Linked DNA regions of Homo sapiens: region 2 is linked to region 1. Evidence: fine-mapped expression QTL. A gene starts in region 1. The other region holds a variant in brackets. All regions are shown on one strand. Distances are from middle to middle. Region 1 holds the start of CD163L1 (CD163 molecule like 1). Region 2 has its middle 26 kb from the start of APOBEC1.

The links. PIP is the estimated chance that this variant, and not a neighbour inherited with it, causes the effect.
Region 2: its variant is fine-mapped to the expression of CD163L1 in testis (GTEx, PIP 0.99).

What each region holds. Positions count from the first base shown.
Region 1 is chr12:7,439,346-7,449,988 of GRCh38, reverse strand. It overlaps CD163L1 (CD163 molecule like 1), which reads left to right and starts at 5,836. Exons shown (of 20, transcript NM_174941.6): 1 at 5,836-5,892; 2 at 8,743-8,835. The coding sequence starts at 5,862. It also overlaps the pseudogene LOC100419928.
Region 2 is chr12:7,634,831-7,645,473 of GRCh38, reverse strand. No RefSeq gene overlaps it. Among named protein-coding and RNA genes, the nearest start is that of APOBEC1, 26 kb to the left of the region's middle. RefSeq lists silencers at 5,342-5,441, 6,523-6,652 and an enhancer at 7,094-7,628. The variant C/T (reference allele first, on the strand shown) is at 5,774.

The DNA of each region.
Region 1 (10,643 bases):
TTCAATTTCCCCTAATCTAATAATTATCATCTACTATCATCATGGAACATTTGTCAAAACTATGAAACCAGCATTGGTACATTATTGTTGTGGATTGAATTGTGTCCCCACAGAAGATATGTTCAGGTCCTAATCCCTTGTATCTATGAATGTGGCCTCAATCCGAAATAGGGTCTCTGCAAATGTAATCAGTTAAAATGAGGCTATACTGGATTAGAGTAAGCCCTAATCCAACAATGTGTCCTTACGAAAAGAGGAAAATTTGGACTTAGAAACACACAGGAAGGATGCTATATGATGGTGGAGGCAGAGATTGGAGTGATGAATCTTCAAACCAAGGAATGCTTATGATTGCCAGCAACAAGCAAAAGCTAGGAAGAGGCAAGGAAGGATCCTCCCTTAGAATCTTTGTAGGGACATGGCCTGCTGACATCTTGATTTCATTCTTGTCATTTCCAGAACTGTAAAAAAAATAAATTGCTATTGTTTTAAGCCACCCAGTTAGTGGTACTGTGCTATGGCAGCCCTGGAAAACAAACCCAATTACTGTTAAATAAACTCCAGATTTTTTAAAATTAATGTCTCTTTTCTGTTTCAGGATCCAATCCAGGATATCACATTGCATTTTGTTGTCCTGTCTTTATAGTGTCCTCTGGTCTATGCCAGTTTCTCAGTCTTTTCTTATTTCTTATGACCTTGACAGTTTTGAAGAGTACTGGTCAGGTGTTTTTTAGCATGTCCCTCACCTTGGGTTTGCCTCATGTTTTACTCATGAATAGATTGGAGTAATGGGGTTTGGGAAAGAACACCACAGCAGTGCCCTACTCATCACACAATATCAGGGCATACATGATATACACATGTTATCTCTGGGGATGTGACTGTTGATCATTTGTTTGAAGTGGTATTTGCTAGATTTCTCCGCTGTAAAGTTATTTACCATCTTTCATACTCCATGCTTTGGAAGTAAATCACTAAGCCTAATATAGGTCTGCTAGTAATGACGTCTCTCAAGCTTTGTTTAAGGGTTTTTAAAATTTCTCCTTCAGTTTTGAAATATATACTCACTATGCAGAGTATTCTTGATTGACAGGTTATTTTCTTTCTTTTAGCACTTAGTAGATATCATCTTCATTGTCTTCATGCATGCACAATTTTGACAAGAGGTCGTCTGTAATTTTTTTTTCTCTCTCTCTCTATATATACGTAATGTGCTTTTTTTCCTTTGGCTGCCTCTCTCTCTGTCTGTCTCTCTGTCTCTTTCTCTCTCTCTCTGTATCTCTCTCTCTCTCTCTCTCATGCCTGTGCAGGTTTAAATATGTTATACCTAGGTAGAGAGTATGTGAGTGTGTGTGTTATTCTTTTCTTACTTGGTGTTCTTTAAGTACATTGTACTGTGGTTTGGTGTCTGTCATTATTCCTAATCATTATTTCTCTGAGTCTTTCTTCTGCCCCATTCTGTCATCATTTTTCTCCTAGCATTCCAATTATAAGTCTGCTGCATATTGTCCTATAGCTTTTGGTTTCTCTGGTCTATTTTTTGTTCACTTCTTGTAGATTTCTTCCAAAATTGTTCCAAATTATGGCTGCCTTCATGTATTCATGTCCAGTGTAATCTGCTCCCCTTGTGTGTGGGCTGGATCTAGTAACTTGCTTCTAATGAATAGAATATGGCAAAAGTGCTGAGATATCAATTTCAAGATTAGGTTAGAAAGGACTGTGACTCCATATTTCTCTCTCTTTCTCTCTCTCTCTCTCTCTCTGCAAGATTTTACACGCTTTCTGCTCTATGGGTGATGTCCTCCTGGTAAGAAACTCAGGGCAGCCTCAGTCCAATTTGGCAAGAAACTGAGCCCCTCAGTACAACATTCTGCCAGCAACCATATTAGGGACTGTATTAGTCTGCTCTGGCTGTCATAACAAAATACCACAGACTGGGTGGCTTCAGCTACAGAAATTTATGCTCTCACAGTTATGGAGGCTAGAAGTCCATGTTCAAGGTGCCAGCAAATTTGGTTTCTGGTGAGGGCTCTCTTCCTGGCTTGCAAACAGCCACCTTCTCTCTGTGTCCTCACATGGCCTTTCCTCTTTGCATGTGTGAAGAGAGTTCTCTGTGTCTTGTTTTGTTCTTATAAGGATAGTAATCCTGGATTAGGACTTCACTCTTATAACTTTATGTAATGTTAATTACTTCCCTAAAGGCCCTATCTTCAAATATAGTCACATTAGGGCTTCAACCTGTGGATTTTGTGGGGGACAAAATTCATTCCGTAACATTCTACCCTCCACTCCCAAATTCATGTTATTCTCACATGATAAATATATTAATCCCATTCCAACAACACATAAAGTCTTAACCCTTTCCAGCATCAATTCTAAAGTCTAAAGTGCAAAGTCTCATTTAAATCAGGTATGGGTGAGACTCAAGTTATGATTCATCCTGAGGCAAAATTCCTTTCCAGTTGTGAACCTGTGAAGCCAGACAAGTTATGTGCATCCAAAAAACAGTAGTGGGACAGGCATAAGACAGACATTCTCATTCCAAAAAGGAGAAGTGGCAAATTCCATTAGATCTTAAGATTCAACAATAATTATCTTTGGCTGAATCCTCTGCCCTCCAGGCCCACTGGGGTGGCATTGTCACCACCACAGCTGTAAGTAGCAGACTGTTAAAACTTTTTGTGGCTGCTCCACTCCTCAGGCACGGATGGAGGCAGCCTGGTCTACTGAAACTGAGGAGATGGTCCCATCCTCTGAAACTGAGGACAAAACAGCCTTTCCTCTGGGCCTATAGTGGGAGTTACAGCACTGATGACCTCTGAATCACCTTCAAGGTCATTTATCCCTTTCCTTGAAGGATAAAGCATGTTCACAGCTGAATATCTCTATTATTTCATCCTACAGAATCTCAGAAGTCAGAAAGCTTTCCATGATTTATTTCAACCCATTTCTATTCTCTTTGGTCCAAACTGGCAGGGTCTCTGCTGATATAATCCCATCTCTATTCAAGGCTCCCGCTAAGGTGGATGAAAAAAGTCATGGTTAATTTCCCTATGGAGTGATTGAGGCGCCACACCATTGATGTTCTCTCCAGAACACATTTTATCATTTTTTTGCTATATAAATAGGCCGAGATTTTTCCAAATCTTCAGTTTCTGGGTTGCTTTTGTTTTTGTTTTTTGCTTAACAATGCTGTCAATTTATCTTTCCCCTCTAGCCTTTTACCATGAGCAATTAGGAAAAACTAGGCTGTGCTTTTAACACTTTGCTTATATATCTTCCCTTTTAAAAATCCAAAGTTGTAATTCACAAGTCCTACACTTTACAAAACACTAAGACACAATTCAGACAAGTTCTTTGCCACTTTAAAACAAAAATCATCTTTTCTGCAGTTTCCAATAACATGTTCCTCACTTCCATGGAAGACTTCATCAGAATTGCTTTTAGCATTCATGTTTTTATTAACAGTCCCTTCAAGGCAATTTAGGCTTTCTCAGGCATGCACCTGAAAACTTTTCTAGCCTCTATTCACTACCCAGTTCCAAAGGCACTTCCACATTTTTAGGTTATCTGTTACAGAAGCATCTCCCTTCTCAGTACCAACATCTGCATTTGTCTGCTTGGATCAACATAGCAAAGTACTGTAGACTGAGTCACTTAAAAATGACAGAAATTTATTTTTCACATTTCTGGAGGCTAGAAGTTCATTATCAAGGTACCAGGAAATTTGGTTTCTAGTGAGGGCTCTCTTGCTGGCTTTTAGACATCCACTTTTTGTCTGTGTCCTCACGTGGCCTTTCTTCTGCACATTTGTGGAAAGAGAGAGAACAAGCTCTGGTGTCCCTTCTTGTAAGGACATCAATCCTATTGGATTAGGGCCTCACCCTTATAATCTCAAGTAACCTTAATTACCTCCTTAAAGGCCCTGTCTTGAAACATAGTCACACTGGGGGGTTATTGCTTTAATCTATAAATTTTGAGGAGACACAATTCAGTCCATGGAATAGCAGTGGCCATGGGAGCAGATCCTTCCTCAGTCAAGCTTCCAGGTGAGACCACAGCCCCAGTTTACAATGTAATTATAGCCCTGTGTGAGATCTTGAAGCAGAATATCCAGCTATTTCCCCAAAGAGATAGTTATCACATCCCTTATGCTTTTTTATCATAAAGGCAAGAAAGGGACTCATTTAGATTAGAACCTGCTACGAAATATTTGAGAGTGAGAGAACTTGGGTGTCTAGAAATGGGAGAAACTCAAAACAGTAGCAGAGATATTGTGGAGACATTTATTCTATCAAAGAATAGCAATAATCAGGTTTTCATTGTTTTCTATTTTCAGTTCCCACTTCTGTGAGATCATTTTATCAGCAGTTAGTTTGCTATGGATTCTGTTAGCATGAAAGCGTTTCCGGTCATACTGTATTTTAAAAATTTCAGGAAATTTTCTCAGCATGGCTGAGAAATAATATACTAAAACAAGTTTCAGCATCCTCTTTTTGTGTCTTCCATTCTTCCATCATGTGACTTATCCTAGTTAGTGAATTACATTTCCCCAAAGACATTTCATCTCAAGCTTTCCAAGAAAAAATTCTCCCTGTTTTCCTCCTGATTTCTTCTGACTTTGGGCACCTACCTCAGTTCTGAGAAGTAAGAAAGAGACTATATTTTGAGAATGGCACTTTATCATTTCAGAGGCACATCTCGCTCATATCTAGCAAGCTCCGATGTTTAATTGGACTTCAAAATACATTTGGCATTAATTGCAGCAGAATTTTATTTAACCTCTGTTATATAAAGCCTTGTCAGGTATCTAAGTTGAAAAGGGACAAGAAAAAATAAAGTTCTTGAATTTATCAATGGAGATTTATAAGGACTTATTTATCTAAAGTATTTAGATATTTTATATCTCATTTTAATTTCTGTATATATTAGCTTCTTTTTTACTAATAGGCCTACTCGACATGGAAGTATAGGACGAAAAATCCTGGCAAACACTCTGATGGGCTCACTTGGGTCATTGGCTTTTCCTTGAACTTGTCACTGTAATCGGGGAGACGTGGGCGTGTGAAAAGATGTGATCTACCATTCTTAACATATCAAGGAAGGGAAAAAGCAATTTTCCCAAAGAAGCAGGGCAGGACATACAGGCCTATCCGAACACAGAACAATCACTATGAGCTCAGAAGCCACTCATGGTTTTCTACCTAATGGTTGAAATCATTTAAATGAATGTTTTCCAAACTCATTTGATGACTAAGCTTTATTTTCTTTTACATAATCATTAACAATAAAAAACTAATTTTAAAGGACTCCATTTTGTTAAACATTTTTATAGACATGAAATTTTTTCAAATATGTTTATCTGTGCTCATGTTTCATCAGCAAAGCTTTCGTAGACTAGCCAGTTTTCAGCAATGTAACCTCTTCTGATCCTTTTAGCATAACTGGTTGAAATATGTATGCTAAAGTAAACAAACCTGATGATATATTTTATCTTTTAGATAAATATCTATAAAACTGTGCTGACAAGATCACATTTATGGAACAAAAATTTTTAAATGTGAAACATGAGTCTTTTTGAAAATTTAGAGTGGCAATTTACAGTTCCCTTTATTCTGTGAGACTTTCCAGGCATATTATTTAACTTCCTTTGTTTTCCATATCCTAACGTGATAAGGAAGTAGCAAAGAAAAAACAACCTCAGCTTTTATAATGACTTCCCCTTTGGAAAACTATGAACTCAATTTTACAGTATTGTCATTTCCAAATAGCAGATCTGTTTTCACCTCATGAGCAGTTCTGAGATTATATATAAGAGGACCCAGGAGTTACATCAGGACTCAGGAAGAGATAGACCCATAATGATGCTGCCTCAAAACTCGTGGCATATTGGTAAGGTTTTGCTTTTATTTTGCTCTGCCATTTGGGAGATGGTGGGTATACTAAGAATATGTGTAACAACAAACAGATATAAATATTATGTAGTAAGGTAAAAAGAAAACAGGACATGAGAAATATAAAAAAATTGAAAGTTTTGTGGAACTTAGAGTAGCAGCAATATTGGAGGCAAAACTGAAATCCAAGAAAGGAGGAAAACATTAATAAAGTAAACAGAAAATGTATTATAAAGACTGGAGATTAGAAGTCACACAAGGATATGAAGTTGTGGAAATAGAAAGAAGGGATAAATTAGAAACTTATTGTTATCAAGTGCCAGGTACTACAGTAAATGCTTTAGGTCATCTCAATTTAATTCACACATGTAACCTATTTTATAGATATTATTGTCTCCATTGGTAGATGGAAAATGAAGACTTATAAGGACTAACTGACTTATGTAAGGTCATGTAGTAGAATCTCAAGTGTAATTTAAATTCAGGACCAGCTAAGTCTGAGCCCTTGATCTTTCTGCTATAAATTTTAATAAAGCAAATAAATAAGAAGACATTATGATAAAAAACAAAGAACAAGTCTTTGATGGACCCTAAAGAGTAAGGACTAAGAAAGGAATACATGGCTAAGAAGTCTTTCACAGCACATCTGAAATTAGTAGTAACCTTTGCACTTGCACTTCATAGACATTTCGTGGAAATAAAGAATCACGAAGGGAGGTTTTTGCTGTATTTGGGACTTATAACTCCTAAATAGGATTGAGGCTTTTGAAAATGCAGTGCTACTCCTGTTGGCATTGTGTCTCTGTGCCATTCCTCAGTGCAATTACTACAAGTCAACTTAATATTTTGTAACTGTTTTGCTTATGACTAAAGACCAGCACATTTCTAGAAAACCAGCAGAAGTTCTGATATTTTTCAAAGCCTCCTTTTTGAAAAAGGGTTTCTACAGTTTGAGAAGCTTGGCTGCCTTCTATCTAGCAAGGCTCATCTTAATGAATTACAGTTCTTCATAATTCATGTGTGTTACTTAAAAGATAATATTATTTAACTTTCAACATGCTGTCTGCCATGTATCTAATTAGAAAAGGAATGGGAAAGATGAAGGTCTTGAATTGGTGAGATGGTATTAGATATATAGAAGGTCACAAGTTCTGGCAATTATACTTTAATTCTCCTTCTCAAGAATTTCCTACTGCACTATTTGTTCACGTTCATCAGATCTTGATTGTGCTGGTGTCAGAGCTTACTATTCTTTTTTCTTTATAGTTCATCTTTAGCTCTAACCATTCTTACAAATGGGCACTCAGAGTTTCCTGGAAGGATTTAGGAAGATGAAATGGCCTCCTAGGATAATCCTACACATGAGGTTTGATGGAACTAAATATTCTTATTAGGAACAAAAGAAATAAGAGAAAAAAGAAGACCAACTTAAAGTGTTTTGGACAAGATGGAAAAGAAGGAAATTGGGACACTAATTGCCCATTCCACACTTATTTCTCCCTGTTTCGTTCTATAGGGAGGGTTTTCTCTTGATTTGGGTACATTTTCCAAGAATGATGGATGTGACTGATGATAATTGTAATAATAAAGTCTCCTCTATGGTTATTACTGACTGTTGCCAAACTCACTTGGGATTACTTCTTAGAGAAGTGCCCGGGATCCATTTTAGTTTCAAAGCATCATTTGAAAAACTAAAGATGTCCACCAAAGCAGGTTGCGCCTTCTGTCTCTGCTTTTGCGTAGCCCAAGCAGCATGGGCCTTTCCCCGATGGGTACTGTTCCTTCTGTCCTCTTAGGGTTTTTGTTTTTTGTTGTCTGGGATTACACATGCTCAGTTTAACTCTGACTTCATCTTTTCCATAAGATACTAATGAAAATACTATTTAAGATAGTTCTCTAACAGTTACAGCTGTTACATACCCCTCAAGTAAACAGGATGATAAATATTATTTTAAAGTATTTCTTATACATTTATTTACCCCTATGAATTAATCATCCCATCTGCTTTTAAAATAATCTTTCTATAATGTAAATTTTATTTATTACACTGATTCAATTCTTTATAGTCTCCAAATAACTCTCAGAATAAATTCTCAACTCCTTCGCTTGTGTATTGCTCCTGCCTATCTTAGTTCATTCTTTCCCCACACGTGTAGCATAAACTTTATTAGATGCAGAACTGAGCATGACTGAAAAGACAGGGAGAAGTGAGGAAGTGGCAAGATTCTGTAGGAATAATAGAATAGTGACCCTGAAGAAAAGTGGATAGCTTTGGTAAATAATCATGAGCTCAATCAGCAGTTATTATAGTGACCTCCAAATGTTGATTTGCTTGTACATTCCAGTCACAAGCCACTGAGTGGAATACAGGCAAGAACACTTATTCATTCCTCTATTCCCATAATGAAGCACAAGATCGGGTACATATGTCATACTCAATAAAGGAGCAAATGAATGAACAAAGTAGGGGGATAACGTTAGGAGGAAAAACAGTAAAAATGAGGAGAGGGTCAAAGAGTTGAGAAGTAAAAATTACTCAGTAACCCAAAATGCTAATCAATTACCCCAAACAGCCACAAAATATATTTGGACACAGAATGCAATTTTTCAATGAATCACATGCTAAAATATCTGCCCTGTTACAAACCACTTGGTGCCTTTCCATCACAAACAGGAGCTAGTCCTGTGGCTTTTCCTGGGAAAAGGACTTTCTTGTGCGGTATCCTTGACAGGTGGAAGAATAATTCATCTTACTCCTTCTATTTTATTTTGGATTTAAGTCATTGAGGTCATCTAACATTTCTTAGAAAGACATGAAATTCTACCCTGCTATATTTTGTTTCTCCAGATTTTGGAAGATGCTGCTGTCATCAGAACCTTTTCTCTGCTGTGGTAACTTGCATCCTGCTCCTGAATTCCTGCTTTCTCATCAGCAGTTTTAGTGAGTTCTGATGGATGATAACTTTTGGGCTTACAATCCTCTATTCTACCTTTCCCCTACTCACTACCCTAAGTGCATATTTTGAGGGAAATAGAACATGTAAAAATAATGTTGGACCTTCAATAGCTATACCCTGTAAATAAAGGTGTCCAAATTATTTTTATGCATTTCATATTACATTTTTCGTTGACATTTTTCTCCTTCAGATAAAGAGAATTTCCAAATCCGGCCGGGCACAGTGGCTCAGGCCTGTAATCTCAGCACTTTGGGAGGCCAAGGTGGGGAGATCACCTGAGGTCAGGAGTTCGAGACCAGCCTGGCCAACACAGTGAAACCACATCTCTATTAAAAATACAAAAATTAGCCGGGTGTGGTGGTGTGCACCTGTAACCCCAGCTACTTGGGGGGCTGAAGTGGAAGAATTGCTTGAACCCAGGAAGTGGAGGTTGTAGTGAGCCGAGATCGTGCCCCTACACTCCAGCCTGGGCGACAGAGCAAGACTCCATCTCAAAAAAAAAAAAAAAGAAAAAAGATAAAGATAGTTTCCAAACGTAAAATGTCTCACTGAAAAAATATGGATATTGTATTTTTGCAAATAGAAAAATCGGTTAATAAAAACTTACAAGATACAGAAATCAAAGAATTAAATACAATTAAAAATATATATGTGTTACACACCATGGAATACTATGCAGCCATAAAAAGATGAATTCAAGGGCCGGGCTGGGCGCGGGAGCTGGCCGGGCTGGGCGCGCCGCGGTCCCGCACCCACTTCCGCTTCCCGTGCGGCGGTGGGGGGATGGCGGCAGGGCCGGTGGGCGGCGGCGGCTCCAGGTCCCTGCCCGGGCGCGGCACTGCGCAGTCCGCCCTCCCCGTCGCAGGGGCGCTCCTGAGCTTCGCGGGGCCGCCTCCAGGGCTGCCTGCGCGGAGGGCCGGCCGCGGCCGACGCGAGTGTTAAGTGTCCGCCCTGGCCGGCTACCCGGAGCCAAGAGCAGGCGGCGGAGCCTGAGCGGGACGTGGCCACGCTGGCGCGGCGGGTCCAAGCCCGCCATTGGTCGGCTTCCGTTACGCCGCTGATGTGGAGTAGGGCGGAGCGCGGAACGCGAGGAGCTGCTGGGGTGTGTGTCGCAGCGGGTTTTCCTCGGCGGTTTGCGGAGCTGCTAGGATGGAGCAGGCTGCGGAGGGAGCGAGTGTGACCGCAGCCCCTGTGTCAGCTGCCGACAGCACTGAGGAGTTGGCCGAAGTCGAAGAAGGAGTTGGAGTAGTGGGCGGGGATAATGACGCAGCCGCGAGAGGAGCGGAGGCCTTTGGCGACAGTGAGGAGGACGGAGAGGATGTGTTCGAGGTGGAGAAGATCCTGGACATAAAGATCGAGGGGGGTGAAATTCTTTACAAAGTTCGCTGGAAAGGCTATACATCGGATGACGATACCTGGGAGCCCGAGACTCACCTGGAGGACTGTAAAGAAGTGCTTCTTGAATTTAGGAAGAAAATTGCAGAGAACAAAGCCAAAGCAGTCAGGAAGGATATTCAGAGACTATCCTTAAATAACGACATATTTGAGGCGAACTCTGATAGCGGTCAGCAAAGTAAGACAAAAGAAGATACTTCCCCAAAGAAGAAAAAGAAAAAATTAAGGCAGAGAGAGGAGAAAAGCCCAGATGATCTGAAAAAGAAAAAAGCAAAGGCCGGGAAGCTAAAAGACAAGTCCAAACCAGACCTGGAGAGCTCCTTGGAAAGTTTAGTTTGATTTAAGGACAAAGAAAAGAATTTCTGAAGCCAAAGAAGAACTAAAGGAGTCCAAAAAG
Region 2 (10,643 bases), 200 kb before region 1:
AGAATAATTTTTGGCATAGGCCATTTTTGTGAGTTGCAATATGATTGGGAGAAATATGATATTGGGTGGCTAAAATAACTTTAGCATTAATCTTGGCAATTCCTTTCCTTTAATTAGTAAATTCTTTTGTGACTTTCACAGACCCTCTTACAACATACTCAAACTCTCTGACTTGTCCTAAACATCCTTCCTGTAAACAACCAGTCATTTCCTTTTAGGACAAGAATTTACCATACACAATCCTTCCTTATATAAAATCTTTCTTTATAAACTTCTTTTAATAGTTTAGAATGCATCCTATTACCAACTTTCAGTAAAAAGTCATATCAAACTTAATGATAGTAAAACTTTTATACTTTCATGCTTGCTTTTTTTCTTTTTTTGATATGGAGTTTCGCTCTTGTTGTCCAAGCTGGAGCGCAATGGCACGATCTCAGCTCACCACAACCTCCTCCTCCCAGGTTCAAGCAATTCTCCTGCCTCAGCCTCCCGAGTAGCTGGGATTACAGGCATGCGCCACCACACCTGTCTAATTTTGTATTTTTTAGTAGAGATGGGGTTTCTTCATGTTGGTCAGGCTGGTCTCGAACTCCCGACCTCAGGTGATCCACCTGCCTCGGCCTCCCAAAGTGCTGAGATTACAGGCATGAGCCATCGCGCCCGGCCTTATGCTTGCTTCTTATCCATAACTATCACTCCTGCTATAAGCAAAATAACCTTGACTAAATCTTTCCTGCAATTATTAATCCTAAGATAAGGAAGATAATCAGGCAAAATATTATAACAATTAGAATTTTACAACCAAAATTCCGCATTGTGGGTGCCACGGTGTATAGTTCCATCGCAAATAGTGGTGTAACTATAACATTTCCCACAAGAGTGGCATAGTAAATAATTTTCGTTTAAGTCTTTACTTGCCTAGATATAACATTTCCCTTTGGGGATCTACAAAGTTACAAATGCAATCCCATGTATAATTAAATCTCGCTGCAAATATGCCTTAAAAGGAATTTTAATATTTGGTGGCAGATTTTGAGAGGAAAGGCAGAAATAATAAAAAGTACCCGATGAGGTAGGAGTAGCCCTCACTCAGTTACTTATCTTTTATGATTTTCAGTTTAAGATCTTCTATTTCTCCACATTGATATTCAGGACGTGCCTCTGGGCTGTCAGAGGTTGATCCCTCAGCTGTTCAGGCTTTGACTTGAATGTGGAAGTCAGGAGTTGATTCCTGTAACTTTTACTGCCAATGGTGTTGAAAGAAGAACAGTGTAGGGCCTTTCCCAGCTTGGCTTAGGGAAGGAGACAGAGATGAGGGTTTTCACTAACACCAAATTTCCTGGGTTAAATAAAGGTGGTTCTGTTTCCTGGGGTTGGACTTCTGTTAGTTGCGTTAATTCTTGTTGGAAGTGAGCTAGAGAGGTTACATGCTTAACCAATTTAGAGGTTTCCTGCCTGAAAACAATCTCTGAGCACACTGATAAGTTTTATCCTTTCCCAAGTGAAAAGCTTGGTGAAGGATTTTAAGGACATTGGCTGGAGGCTGGCAAATGGAGTTTGCCATCCTCTGACTGTAGCCTTTCTGAGGGCTGGGAACTACGTCCTCGAGAAGTGGCCTATTTTATTTCTGCAGGGAAATACTGAGGTTTAATTTTTCTTATGGAGCCTTCCTAGATTAGAAGGGGCTTAAGTGCCTTAACGGCTTGAGGCTTCCTTGCCTCTGACTTAACTGCCTGATCAGCTAACCTATTTCCTTTGGCTACCTCATTTGTTCCCTTTTGATGTTCCTTACAATGCATTCCTGCTATTTCTTGTGGAAGAAAAACTGAAGATAACCTGCTAATTTCCTGGTGATATTTTTATAGGGGATCTATTAATGGTAAGAAAATGTCTTTTCTTTCTTTCTTTCTTTTTGAGACGAAGTCTCGCTCCGTCGCCCAGGCTGGACTGCAGTGGCGCGATCTCGGCTCACTGCAACCTCCACCTCCCAGGTTCACGCCATTCTCGTGTCTCAGCCTCCCAGGTAGGTGGGACTACAGGCGCCTGCCACCACGCCTGGCTAATTTTTTGTATTTTTAGTAGAGACGGGGTTTCACCATGTTAGCCAGGATGGTCTTGATCCCCTGACCTCGTGATCCGCCCGTCTGGCCTCCCAAAGTGTTGGGATTACAGGCGTGAGCCACCGCCTGGCCGAAAATGTCTTTTCTTTCAAATGGCAGCATGAGCATGGAGAACCAAGAAAGCATACTTGGAGTTAGTATAAATGTTAGCTACCTTTCCCTTGCTTAATCCAAGTGTGCTTGTAAAAGCTGTTAGCTCAGCTAATTGAGCGCTTGTGCCTGGGGAGAGACGTTATTTAGAGTGACTACTGCTTATCCTGCCTTATGTACTTCTTGCTTTACTGGCGGTTTGTTGGCTAAGAGCTCCCCCTAGAGGACAGTAATCCTGCCACATTATGTGGGGTGTAAACAGTTAAATTATTTCCTAGGGTTAACTTGGAGGCTTTTCTGATTAGCGAGCTGTCATGATAATGGCTTGGAAGCACGTGTCAACTAAGGTTGAGAAAAATACTGGAGTAGAGTTTTTCCTGAGATGCCCCTTCTGGTTGTGCTATGGGAAGAGGGGAGGCCTGGATTAGAGAGGAGAAAAAAGAGAGACTGGCTGAGTGTTTAGAAAGAGGTCTACTTTCCTTCTTTTAATTTCCAGAATCACTCAGAGCTCCTGTGCTGTAATGGCAGTTTGAGCCGCTGGAGCTGGAGTTTGAGCCCCGGGATCCAGTTCTGCTGGATCATCAGTAAGACTGGTTCTGAACCCAGTGACCTCCACCTCTGGGGGCAGTTCCATCTCCTGTTGTCTCTGCCACAGGCTGGAGAGGGTTGAGGTGGCTTTGTCTTGCTGTATGGGCATTCTTTCTTAACATGCTCTGGCCTGCCACACTGATAGCAACTAGCAGATGCACCTCCGGGATCCTGGACTTTGCAAGCCTGCAAAGCTGCTGCTAGAGTCTCTGTCCTTCTGACCATTGTCTCTTTCTTTTGGGCCTCCTCCTGGTTCCTATTACAAAAGACCAAAGTGGCCACTTTCAGGAAGTTCTCTAAGGTGCTATCTGGTCCTATAGCTTGCTTGTGTAGTTTCCTTTTAATATTGGCAGCTGCCTGTCTAATAAACTTGTCCTTTAGGATGAGCTGTCCCTCGACTGAATCAGGGGATAAGGAGGGGTGTTCTGTTAGTGCCTCTCTCAGCCTTTCCATAAAGGCTACAAGATTCTCATCTGGCTGTTTATCATGGACAGTTTAGAGTAATTGAGAGGTTTGGCCCTGGTTTTCCGTAGGCCCTCTAATGCACACTTAAAAAAGAGCTTCCTTTTCATCTCCTGAGTTATTGGGGTCCCAATTAGGGTTGTCAAGGGAAACTGCTTTCCTCCCAATTGGGAATGGCATTTCTGCTATTTCTTCTCTTTCCTTATCTGCTTTCTTCCCTTTTGGTGTATTATAGGAGATATGTTGCTAATCTCTGAAATCAGAGCTGCCTGCTTTTCAGCTGCAGTGAGGGTCTGACTTAGGAGCAACATAACATCCTTCCATCTGAGGTGAAATACCTGAGTTAAATTTTGGAAAGCTTTTTTTTTGAGACGGAGTCTCACTCTATTGCTAGGCTGGAGTTCAGTGCCGTGATCTTGGCTCACTGCAACCTCCACATCCTGGGTGCAAGCGATTCTCCTGCCTCAGCCTCCCAAGTAGCTGAGATTACAGGCACATGCCACAACGCCCAACTAATTTTTGTATTTTTAGTAGAGACGGGGTTTCACCATGTTGACCAGGATGGTCTCAATCTCTTGACCTCGTGATCTGCCCGCCTCAGCCTCCCAAAGTGTTGGGATTACAGGCGTGAGCCACTGCGCCCAGCCTGGAAAGCTTTTATATACCTATCAGGGTTGTGAGAAAATTGGCTAAGTCTCCCTTTATTACAGGCCTAAGGGGCTGTAACGAGAAGGGAACTTGAAGGGGCCCCCAAAGAAGGGGGATCTTCAGATGGCTCCTCTGGAAGTTGCTTTTCTAATTTTGGGGAATTATTTTCAGTGAGCGTGCCTGATATGATTCCTAAAAGAGCTGGGTTGATCTTACACTGCTTGCAAAGTTTCAGTAAAAATACCATGCCCTTGTGCAAAATAAAATGAGTTGCTCTTCTCTTTAATGTCCTGAGGCTAAGAAAGTTTCAGTGTTTCAGAGTGCACGCCAGAGGGGCACAAACTGAAGATAATCTGTTACCCATCTAGAAAGAAAAGCAATAAAAGTGTCCTTTTAATCTACTTTGATTCCCTATGACCCCCGACGGAGAATAACACAGTGGAGTGTCCTGTTTTCCTTCCCTGGTTCCTGGGACCCTGTTAAATGTGCCACCCACGATTGTAAGCATGGTCCCCCAAGCCATGGGAGCGGATGAACTAAGTGATGGTGTGTCCGGAATGGGTGGGTTCTTGGTCTCACTGACTTCAAAAATGAAGCCGCAGACCCTCACGGTGAGTGTTACAGCTCTTAAGGTGGCGCGTCTGGAGTTTGTTCCTTTTGATGTGCAGGTGTGTTCAGTTTTTTCTTTCTGGTGGGTTCATGGTCTGGCGGGCTCAGGAGTAAAGCTGCAGACCTTTGCGGTCACTGTTACAGCTCTTAAGGCAGCGCGTCGGGAGTTGTTCGTTCCTCCCGGTAGGCTCGTGGTCTCGCAAGCTTTCGTGGTGAGTGCTGTAATTCACAAAAGTAGTATGGACCCCAAGAGCGAAAGAACAAAGCCCCACCAAGGCAGAGAGACACCCGAGCGGGTTACTACTACCAACTCGGGCAGCCTGCTTTTATTCTCTTATCTGGCCCCCCCCCAACCACATCCTGCTGATTGGTAGAGGCGAGTGGTCTGTTTTGACAGGGCGCTGATTGGTGCGTTTACAATCCCTGAGCTAGGTACAAAGGTTCTCCTCCTCCCCATCAGATTAGTTAGATACAGAGTATCCACACAAAGGTTCTCCAAGGCCCCACCAGAGCAGCTAGATACAGAGTGTCGATTGGCGCGCTCACAACCCTGAGCTAGACACAGGGTGCTGATTGGTGTGTTTACAAACCTTGAGCTAGATACAGAGTGTCCATTGGTGTATTTGCAATCCCTGAGCTAAACATAAATTCTCCACGTCCTCACCAGACTCAGGAGCCCAGCTGGCTTCACCCAGTGGATCCCGCACCGGCGCTGCAGTCCCACGCCATGCGCTTGCACTCCTCAGCCCTTGGGCGGTCGATGGGACTGGGCGCCGTGGAGCAGGGGGCGGCGCTCGTCGGGGAGGCTCCGGCTGCACAGGAACCCACGGAGGCGGGGGAAGGCTCAGGCATGGCGGGCTGCAGTCCCAAGGCCTGCCCCGCGGGAAGGCAGCTAAGGCCCGGTGAGAAATCGAGCGCAGCGCCGGTGGGCTGGCACTGCTGGGGGACCCAGTACACCCTCCGCAGCCGCTGGCCCGGGTGCTAAGCCCCTCACTGCCCCGGGCCGGCAGGGCCGGCCGGCTGCTCCGAGTGCGGGGCCGCCAAGCCCACGCCCCCCCGGAACTCCAGCTGGCCCGCAAGCGCCGCGCGCAGCCCCGGTTCCCGCTCGCGCGTCTCCCTCCACACCTCCCTGCAAGCTGAGGGAGCGGGCTGCGGCCTTCGCCAGCCCAGAAAGGGGCTCCCACAGTGCAGCGGTGGGCTGAAGGGCTCCTCAAGTGCCGCCAAAGTGGGAGCCCAGGCAGAGGAGGCGCCGAGAG[C/T]GAGCGAGAGCTGTGAGGACTGCTAGCACGCTGTCACCTCTCAATGGGATTAACCACACTTTACCCACGCAACCTTAGCTTATCTGCCTTGTGTGATTCCCTTTGACTTCCTAAGCCTATGTGATCTACCTGGCTCCCTGAAAAATTGATCTTTGGAGAGACTGTGTTGTTTTTGGTCAAGGCTCCTTTAACAGAGGCAATGTGCTAGACTGCCTGCTATTATGGCCCATGCCAAACCATTTACCCTCAGAAAAATGGTTCTGGTTAACTTCTGAACTTAAAATCTCCCTACTAATTATACCATTTTAACAGGAAACAGATTAGATGTCTTAAAAGAGCGTAGGAACAGAATGGCCATTTTCCTGCTTATGGGACAATATCAAGACTAAAATGTGGCAGCAGACATATTACTTCTTTTTGAGACAGAGTCTCACTGTCACCCAGGCTGGAGTGCAGTGACGTAATCTCAGCTCACTGCAACCTCTGCTTCCCCGTTTTAAGCAATTCAATAGCCTCAGCCTCCTGAGCAGCTGGGACCGCAGGTGTGCACCACCACGCCCAGCTAATTTTTGTGTTTTTAGTAGAGACGGGGTTTCACCATATTGGCCAGGCTGGTCTCGAACTCCTGACCTCGTGATCCACCCGCTTTGGCCTCCCAAAGTGTTGGGATTACAGGCGTAAGCCACCATGCCCGGTCGAGGACATATTACTTCTAATTGCTGAAGGCAGAACTTTCCGGTTCACAGAAGTAGGTTAGAGCCTGATTTCTGGTGGTGCAAAAGGAAGTTCAGTGTTACCGTAAAAAATGTGGCCCCTGAAGAGGATTTCTACTTCCACTAGGTGGCGCTGTTGGCTTAGAAATACTATATGCTCACCAGCGCAGCCACAGAGAGCGGGCTTGTTGAGTTACTGCCTGCTGCGTTTGCCATCTTTCCTAGCAGACCTGTTTCACTGAACTGTAAAACTCCCTGCACTTTTCACAGAGAGAGAGTAAGAGACCGTGGATAGAGAAAGAAGGAAAATTTTGCAACAGGATAGTAAGAAGAGAGCCTTGAAATTGAAGGAGAGATTTGAGGTTGGGGCTCGCTCTATAGTCACCACTCCGATGAATGAATTCCCGGTCAATGCAACCAAAATGATAACTGCTCTGATGAATGGAAGAACAGCAGGGTCCTTGGTCTAACATCGTTTTAGATAAAGCGACATGGACACATGTAGAGTGGTTTTAAGGAGTGGAGAGTTTAATAAGCAAGAAAGAAGGAAGAAGCTTCCCAGTACAGGGACAGAGGGAGGGGGGCTCCCAGAGAGAAACCCCGTGTGTGGCAGAGTAGTTTGTTATAGCAGGAGGCTGGAGGAGGAGGTGTCTAATTTGCATAGGGCCCAGGAGATTGGTTTGACCAGGCGTGTCATTCACATAGCCCGTGAAAAACCTGGCACTCCTACCTTACTCCTTTAATATGCAAATGCAGGTCACCATGATATCCATGTTATCTGGAGGCAATCATGACACTTGGCACATGTAGTGATGAGGAGGAGAGGGTGGCACTCTTCCTGTTGGCCATGTTGGGTGGACCCAGTTTCTAATCGCCAGCATTTGCATATCAAAGCTTGCCGGCCTGGTTTTTCAAGCTGCCTTTCTGTTAGAAAAGAAATGGTTTGGGGGTTGCTTCTTATTACAGGAAAATTTCCACTGAGAACCTTTACCCTTTCTAGCGGCCTAAAAGTTATTTCTTAATAATTCCTGTATTATTTGGAGGTGTTTGGGTCATGTGGGTAGATCCCTCCTGAAGTAATGAGTTCTCACTGTTCGTTCACACAAGAGCTTGTTGTTTAAGAGTCTGGCATCTCGCTTGCTCCTACTCTCACCATGTGGCACACTGTCGCCCCTTTGCCTTCCACCATGATTGTAAGCTTCCTGAAGCCCTCATCAGAAGCAGATGCTGGCACTATGCTTCATGCACAGCCTGTAGAACTATGAGTCAACTTAACCCCTTTTCTTTATAGATTACCCAGCCTCAGGTATTCTTTTATAGTAATGCAAGCAGACTAACACAAAGCTCATTATATATTTACAGTAGAGATGGATGTTAATACATGAGCATATTTTATATGAGCCACTATAATTATTGCTATTCCTATAGGAGAAAAATTATTCAGCTGATTAGCAAACTTTCACAGAGAAAATATCTAATGGTCATTAGCTGTACTATGAACTTTAGGCTTTATTTTCTCATTCACAGTTGGAGGCTCAACAAAAATTGTATCAGCTAAATTATCATTTGATATCAACCTTCATGATAGATATTGTTGTAGTAAAGCAAAGTAAAATGAAAGTAAAGTCAAAGTAAAGCAAAGTAAAAGGCTAGAGAGTGTTGGAAGCAGTGAATCCTATTTTAGATGGACTTGCCAAGGATACTGGTAATTTTCTTTTTTTTTTGAGATGGAGTCTTTCTTTGTCATCCGGAGTGGAGTGCAGTGACTTGATCTTGGCTCACTGCAACCTCTGCCTCTGGGGTTCAAGCGATTCTCCTGCCTCAGCCTACTGAGTAGCTGGGATTATAGGCACGTGCCATCATGCCTGGCTAATTTTTGTATTTTTAGTAGAGACGGGGTTTCACCATATTGGCCAGGCTGGTCCCGCACGCCTGACCTTGTGATCTGCCCACCTCGGCCTCCCGAAGTGCTAGGATTACAGGCATGAGCCACTGCACCTGGGCGGATACTGGTAATAAAGTAAATGAGCAGGTCATGTGAAAATCTGGAGAAAGTTTATTTCAAGCAGATGGAAGAAGGTGCAGGCATTTGAAATTGGAACAAAACAAATTTGGCATTTTTTAAGGAATAAAAAATGTGGTTAGAGTGGAATAAATGAGGTGAGAAAATGTAGGAAATAGGGCCAGGGAGACAAGCAAAGGTAAGATTATGTAGGGAAGTATAGGTCATGGAAAGAAATTTGGATTTTCTTTTGAGTAAACTGGATTTTAGAAATTTGTGGTAGTGCAGGATTTATTATGTATTAACAAGAACTGGTTGCCTGCTGTATGGAAAACAGATATAGTGGGGCAAAAGTGAAGTAAGGAAGTCCAGTTAGAAATACAGCAGATATCTAGTAAAGACTAAGCTCTGATTTTTTATCTGGCCTAAATTCCTTATTAAGGGGTATGGGGAGTCATGACCCACAAACCATAAATTCTCATCAGATGGGTTTTATTTAATCCTGTATATTACGACTTACTTTCCAATCTGACTCTGGCATAACTAGAAAGAAAATAAAAATGTTTTACCCCAAAATATATTTTCTTGCCATACCTTGAAATTGCCCTGCAAAGTCCCTTGTGGGAAAAATCCACATTCTATAGAGAATCCCCTTTCCCCTTTGTTTTCCTTTCTTCCTTTCTGGATCCAGGAGATAATCAACTAAGAGCCAGGTACCCTTTTAGGTCTGATAGGAAACATTTTACAACCTGCTGTCTCTGAAGTCTGCTATCAGAGAGCTTCCTCTGCACAATAAAACTTGGTCTCCACAATTCTTTATCTTAACTTGAACATACCTTTCTTTTTTTTGAGACAGAGTCTCACTCTGTCACCCAGGCAGGAGTGCAATGACGCAATCTCGGCTCACTGCAACTTTCGCCTCCTGGGTTCAAAAGATTCTTGTGCCTCAGCCTCCCAAGTAGCTGGGGTTACAGGCACCCACCACCATGCCCAGCTAATTTTTGTATTTTTAGTAGAGACAGGGTTTCACCATGTTGGCCAGGCTGGTCTCGAACTCCTGACCTTGGGTGATCCACCTGCCTTGGCCTCCCAAAGTGCTGGGATTACAGGTGTGAGCCACCACACCCGGCCTGGACATTTCCTTTCTATTGATCCCAGCTCTTCAGATAAACTCAACCAACTGTCATACAGAAAATGTTTAAATTTACCTATAGCCTGGAAGCCCCTGCTTTGAGTTGTCCTGCCTTTCTGAACCAAACCAATGTATTTCTTAAATGTATTTGATGTGTCATGCCTTCCTAAAACATATAAAAGCAAGCTGTACCCCATCCATCCTGGGCACATGTTCTCAGGACCTCCTGAGGGCTGTGTCATGGGCCATGGTCACTCATATTTGGCTCAGAATAAATCTCTTCACATATTTTATAGAGTTTGACTATTTTCATCCATACTAGGAAATATGACTATTATCTCTACTGAAATAAAGATACAAGTGGTGAGAAGTAGTAAGATTTGGGATATATATTAAAGGTTTAGTTGACAGGATTTGTTGATGGAATAAATGTATGCTACAAAGGGAAAACTCATGACTTTTACATTTTTAGCAAGAACAACCAGATGAATGATACTGTCACTTAACTGAAATGAGGAACACAGGGCTAGGAGTGGTTTGAAAGTGAAGTCAAGAGTTCCATTTAATTATGTTAACTTTTAAAATGTTTATTAGACATACAAGTGGACAGTTATTCATGTCTGAATTTGATAGAAAAGGTAAAATCTGGGGATTAAAAAAATGGGCTTTACATATGCATTGTCTTAAAGTCACAGGAATGGTTGACCTTACTTAGACATGTGAATATGAATTGTGGACATAAGAAAATTGAAGACCAATCCACAGGATTTACCAACATCTGGAGATCAAGACAAAGACGAAGAAACAGCAAAGTTGGCTGAGTAGCAGTAGCCAATAAGATAAAAGATAAATCAGAAAACTTTTATCCCAGAAGCCAAGTGGAGAGAAAAGTGTTTTAAGAATGAAGATGGGGAAGATTCTAGGTAGGTGGTTTTAGTACAGTGCACTTTAAAAATCTCCATCTAGGGCAGCAAAACCAAGGAGCAATGAACAAAACCCATTTATAGCAAAACTAGATGGCAA